Regions from separate parts of the Homo sapiens genome. Here region 1 is linked to region 2. A link means that fine-mapping ties the variant in region 2 to the expression of a gene that starts in the linked region. Tissue or cell type: whole blood. Region 2 holds a variant in brackets; the other region holds the start of a gene. All regions are shown on one strand. Distances are from middle to middle.

Evidence for each region. PIP is the estimated chance that this variant, and not a neighbour inherited with it, causes the effect.
Region 1: it holds the start of MORN1, and the variant in region 2 is fine-mapped to the expression of MORN1 in whole blood (TOPMed, PIP above 0.99).

What each region holds. Positions count from the first base shown.
Region 1 is chr1:2,390,433-2,393,109 of GRCh38, forward strand. It overlaps MORN1 (MORN repeat containing 1), which reads right to left and starts at 1,122. Exons shown (of 14, transcript NM_024848.3): 1 at 1,026-1,122. The coding sequence starts at 1,101. RER1 (retention in endoplasmic reticulum sorting receptor 1) reads left to right here and starts at 1,409. Exons shown (of 7, transcript NM_007033.5): 1 at 1,409-1,526. RefSeq lists silencers at 695-824, 985-1,054, 1,185-1,294, 1,395-1,694 and enhancers at 1,118-1,412, 1,281-2,153.
Region 2 is chr1:2,345,985-2,348,661 of GRCh38, forward strand. All of the region lies in intron 10 of MORN1 (MORN repeat containing 1), which reads right to left. Among named protein-coding and RNA genes, the nearest start is that of MORN1, 44 kb to the right of the region's middle. The variant A/G (reference allele first, on the strand shown) is at 1,225.

The sequences.
Region 1 (2,677 bases), 44 kb after region 2:
CCTATCGCTGGGGAGAAAATCCACACTCATACCCAAGGATGGCCTGGCCGGCTTCATCTCCTCCTAGTTGCTGGGTGTGCCACCCGCCAACTCCTGCAGTTCCAGGAATGGGCAGGGCTCCCTCCCTACCAGCTCCTCAGGCACATTTTGTGGGCAGGGTTTATGGGAAAATGTCGGGGAGGAGGGCAGGGGGTTACTACAGGCTACTGTATCTGTCCCAAATCAGGGTCAGGTTCTACCTGAAGATAGTAGTGTTAGCTCTGAGTTCATTCCAGACCCGTTTATTTGATTCTAGAAACAGTTCCTATCAAAACCTGCTCTTTTTTTTTTTTTTGAGACTGAGTCTTGCTCTGTCGCCCAGGCTGGGGTGCAGCGGCGCGATCTCGGCTCTCTGCAACCTCCGCTTCCTGGGTTCAAGCGATTCTCCTGCCTCAGCCTCCCGAGTAGCTGGAACTACAGGAGGCACCACCCCGGGCCAATTTTTGTATTTTTTAGTAGAGACCGGGTTTCGCCATGTTGGCCACACTGGTCTCGAACTCCTGACCTCAGGTGATCCACCCGCCTCGGCCTCCCAAAGTGCTGGAAGTACAGGCAAAAACTGCTTTTGAAACGCGTCCTAGCGTTTCTGGACAGCACCGGCCAGGAAGTCAGGAGGCTTGGTGCTGCTCCTGCGCCTGCCCTCGCCCCAAGTCCTGGGCTTCGGGATCCCCATGGCAACCCCAGGTCCCGCTGGCTGTGAGGCTGCGGCCGGAACCCGGTCTTCCCGGCTAGGAGCCCGCGGGGGGCGACCCCCTGCAGGGCTTGGCCTGCTGCGGGAGGAGGGCTCGGGGAAGGGTGCGAGCCGAGCCCGAGGCGCACGGCGAGTCCTGTGGGAGTGGGGGACGCGGGGGCGGCCCTGGCTCCGCCGCGGCACCTGGACCTCTACTTTCCGAGGTGAGCATTTGGGGGTCGAGGGCGTAGAGCGATCGCACCCTGAATGGAGCCCAGGGCAGCCAGCGACCTGTCCCGTGGCCCGCAGTCGTTACCGTTCCGGGGCGGCCGCCTAGGCGGGTCCCGACGCGGCCCGCGGGAGCTCGGGGTGCCCTCGCCCGCCGCTGCCATCTTGCCGCCGAGGGTTCTCTTAGCGACCAGCAACGCCCGCTTCCATTGGTCTTTGTCGCAAGGGGGGGTGTGGCCACGGGCCTAGTCCCTGAGCCCGCGCAATCTCTGGAGCGAAGCTAGCCGGGCCCGGAGCCAGAGGACGCAGCTGCGCCTGTGCGCGTTTCCGCCGCTGTCGTCTCTTCCGCCGGGAGGCCCGCCCGCCAACGGCCTGCGCGTCTGCGCCGGAAGCGGAAATGGTTGGAGCCCTTGGCCCCGCCCTCGCGCCATCTTGGGGGCCCTGGAGGCGGCGCCGCGGAGGACGGAGCGGAAGTGCTCGCTGCAGCTTCCCGGAGCCGGAGCGCAGCGCCTGCGGCCGCCCGTGCCCCGCCGTCCTCCTTCCCGCGGCCGTGAGGGAGACCGCGGCTCGGCCGTAGCGGAGCTGCGAGGTGCCAGGAAGGGCTGCGTGGCGCGGGAACGGCCGGGCAGCGCCGCCTCCGCTTCTTCCGGGCTGTCAAGGCCGCGGGCGGGCGGGGCCGCGCTGAGGGCCGGGCGGGGAGGGCCGTCGGGGCCCGGGTGGCCGCGGGGACCGTGTTCCCGACCCGCGGCCCTGAGGGGTACGGGTCGCGCCTCGGGGTCGGGCCCGGGACGGGGTGCTGGGGGGTGCGGCGGAGCCCTGGGGCCTGCGAGGGTCGGGGGAGCGGGAGAGGGGCCGGGCGGGGGCTGCAGCCCTCGAGCCACCCGGGCCGCATCTCGTCCGCATCCCCTGCTTGGCATCTGGGGGAAGCGGGCAGTCGCGGCCCCCACAGCGCTGCGAGTTGGGCTGTATTCCAGAGTAATGTGCCCTGTCCCCATCCTGCGTCCAGGTCAGCGCTTATCTGTAGGATTTAGTGTTAAGCTCTGGGGTGAAGGCGTTACTGACGGGCTGAAGGGAAACTAGTTACATCGGTTTTGATCGTATTCTAAATAGGCAATAAAATCATAAATTCTCCAGGCTGACTTAGTACTGGTCTGTGGCCCCACTGATAAAGGTATCGTTCGTTTCTCTGCCAGGTGTCTCACAGCACAGAGGGCTGCTTTCAGCCTAAGTACCTTCAGTGGGCTTTTGCCCTTTTCCCTTTATGAAGAGTAGAGACTGGCCGCTAGTCCTGGAAGCACTTTATTTTTAGTTGAGTTGACATTTCCCAGGAAGATGCAGTTATCCCCGTAAGTGGATAAAGGGTTCTCAGTAATTCAGACTCTCACATGGCTTCTGCCGTATGCCTGAGGTGACGGCGACGGCGGTAACAGTGTGTCAGAGCCAGGTGGAGATATAAGATGGTCAGGCCCAGAGGAGCGGGGAGCCCAGGCTGGAATGTGGCCTTGGGAAGGAGGAAGAGACGGGGTCTGGGAGGGCATTTCAGAGGACTGAACAACACCAGAGGCGTGAAGCTTGGTGCACGGCAGCCGGGGGCTTTCTTAGTCCCGGAGGAATTGGGGATGGGGACGTGAAGAGAAAGGTGGGAGCCAGACTGTCAATGCTCCCGGACGCCAGGCAGAGGACTTCATCCTTTCCACGTGCAGAGTGATGGACCACAGATGTGGATGAATGTGACGGGCC
Region 2 (2,677 bases):
AGCCACCAGGAACCTTCCTCAGACAAAGCCACCAGGAACCTTCCTCAGACAAAGCCACCAGGAACCTTCCTCAGACAAAGCCACCAGGGAACCTTCCTCAGACAAAGCCACCAGGAACCTTCCTCAGACAAAGCCACCAGGGAACCTTCCTCACACAAAGCCACCAGGAACCTTCCTCAGACAAAGCCACCAGGGAACCTTCCTCAGACAAAGCCACCAGGGAACCTTCCCTGAAAGGCCTGGCCTGAAAGCTTCACAGACGCCAGGGTGCCCGCAGTCAGGGAAAGGCCCCGGAAGGTTCCCAAGTGCTGGGAGGCTGAGGCAGGAGGATCACTTGAGCCCAGGAGTTTGAGGATTACAGGGACCTCACCTGGCCTCGAGATACATTTTATTTTGTTTTTATGTATATTTTATTTTTTGAGACAAAGTCTCGCTCTGTCGCCCAGGATGGAGTGCCGTGGCGCATTCTCGGCTCACTGCAACCTCCGACTCCCTGGTTCAAGCGATTCTTCTGCCTCAGCCTCCTGAGTAGCTGGGATTACAGGCGCCCGCCACCACACCTGGCTAATTTTTGTATTTTTAGTAGGGATGGGGTTTTGCCATGTTGCCCAGGCTGGTCTTGATTTCCTGACCTCAGGTGATCCACCCGCCTTGACCTCCCAAAGTGCTGGGATTACAGGCGTGAGCCACCGCGCCCACCCTGAGATAAATTTTAAAGGAAAAGACAAAAAAGCACCCCCTTCTCCTTCCCCCATCTCGACCTAAGAAGGGTGTTTGGGTGCATCCTCAGCCCCTCAGGGTGTTCCAGCCCCCAGCCGGTCCGAGTACCGAGGCTCCTGCCGGTCACCCCTGCTGGGGTCTGCCCTGGGGAGCAGGAGCTGTCCTCCTAGTCTGGGTGGGGCCCAGCTCTCCCTGCCCACCCCCGGCCCAGCTCCCACTAGCCCTGAAGGCCACCGTCCCGCTGGCCAGGGCTGGACTGGTGTGGGTGCTCCCTTCCTCCTAGGAGAGGGACTCCTGGGTCCTTCTTGGGAGATAGGGAGCTTCTTGGGACATGGGGACTCTTGGGAGATGGGGAACTTCTTGGGAGATGGGGAGCTCTTGGGAGATGGGGAACTCAAAGCACCCTACCCAGCTGCACTCTTGGCCCCATGGCCCCAGGACCTGGGATGCCGCCCCCACACAGCTTTGCTGGGGGAGGTGGTTTCCCACTTAGAGTGGCAGGGG[A/G]CACGTCCCCTTGGGGCAGCTGGTGGCCAGTCTGAGTCTGTTCAGAGGCTGCGACTGTGTGCCAGTGCCAAAGCGCCTCTAGAAAGGAAAGAATCTAATGTGCCACGAAGGCTCCATCCCCAGCTGCAGGTGGCAGATGGCCCGTGTGTGTGCTGTGTGGCTGCGGCTGCCCCCTACCCCCGATCACCCATCCCGAAGCAGGGTATGGGGCACTCCATGGAGGGCACTGGTCAGGCACAGGCTGTCTCCAGGGGACACCAGGGAGGAGGATCCCGAGTGGCTGAGACCCTGGCATCTGCAGAGGCGCCCCCAGGCCCACACACCCCATGACCTCAGGGGTCTAGGCCATTGCTGGACAGGCCCCAGATGACTTAGAACCACCAGGCCAGCTGCTGGCCCCATAGTCTCGGTGCAGGGGGGACGGGGCCACGCAGGTGTCCTCCCCACCGTGGCTGCCCGTGCGATGCTCCCAGTGGCCTCAGGGTTAGGTTCTGACTGCGGGACAGGGAGGTGGACTGCACGGCTGCTGCAGCCTTGAGGCTCCTGCTCGGCCCCCGCTGCCCCCGTCACCCCCCTGCCACCCTGCGTGCCGGGTGCACAGGTATTTTACATTTTGGGGTAAATGTTTAATCAAACATTTACAGAAAAGTCACAGGTAGAGTACAAAGAATGTTTTCGCTGGGCCATCTGAAAGTCCGCTGCTGAATTTGCTCCTCACTCCACATCCTCGAGTGCATTTTACAAACCGGGAAGTTTTTCGCCTCACGTAACCCAGCACAGCCGTCCCGGGGCAGGGCACGCCTCGGGGTCAGACCCCAGCCTGGGCTTCCCCGTGGCCCAGTGATGTCCCTCGCAGGAAGGAGATCAGCCTGGGACCACACATTGCAGCGAGCTCTCATTGTGTCTTCAGTCTCCGTCGGTCTGGAACATTCCCGGGCCTTTCCCTGACTGCCATGGTCCTGGCGTCTTCGAAGCTTCCAGGCCAGGCCTTTCAGGGAAGGTTCCCCCGTGTGGCCGTGTCTGAGGTCTCATCACAGAGAGACCCGGGTTACGCATCTTTGGCAGGAGAGGCATGGATGCGACGCTCATGCCTTTCATGGATGGCTCTGCTCAGCCCACGCTGCCAGGTGGGGCAGGATTTTCACTGACCCAGAACCAGTGGAGTCCACCGTGAGGCTGGTGGCGCGTCTCCGTGGGGAGCTGACTCCTCCTCCCTCTGCCCTCCATGGGGGAAGTGCCTCCATCCTGCCCCAGCCTGGATCCGCCGCTTCTCCAGGGAACCCCGGTTCTTTTCAGACGCGCACCTGGGTACTGTGTCCGCTCCTGCCTGCTGGGGAGCCGCTGCCCACGGGCCCTGCCAGAGCCGGAGAGTGCACACACACGCATGCGCACATACGTGCACCTAGGCAGGCACGCACGCACACACGCACCTGCGCAGGCACGCACACACGCA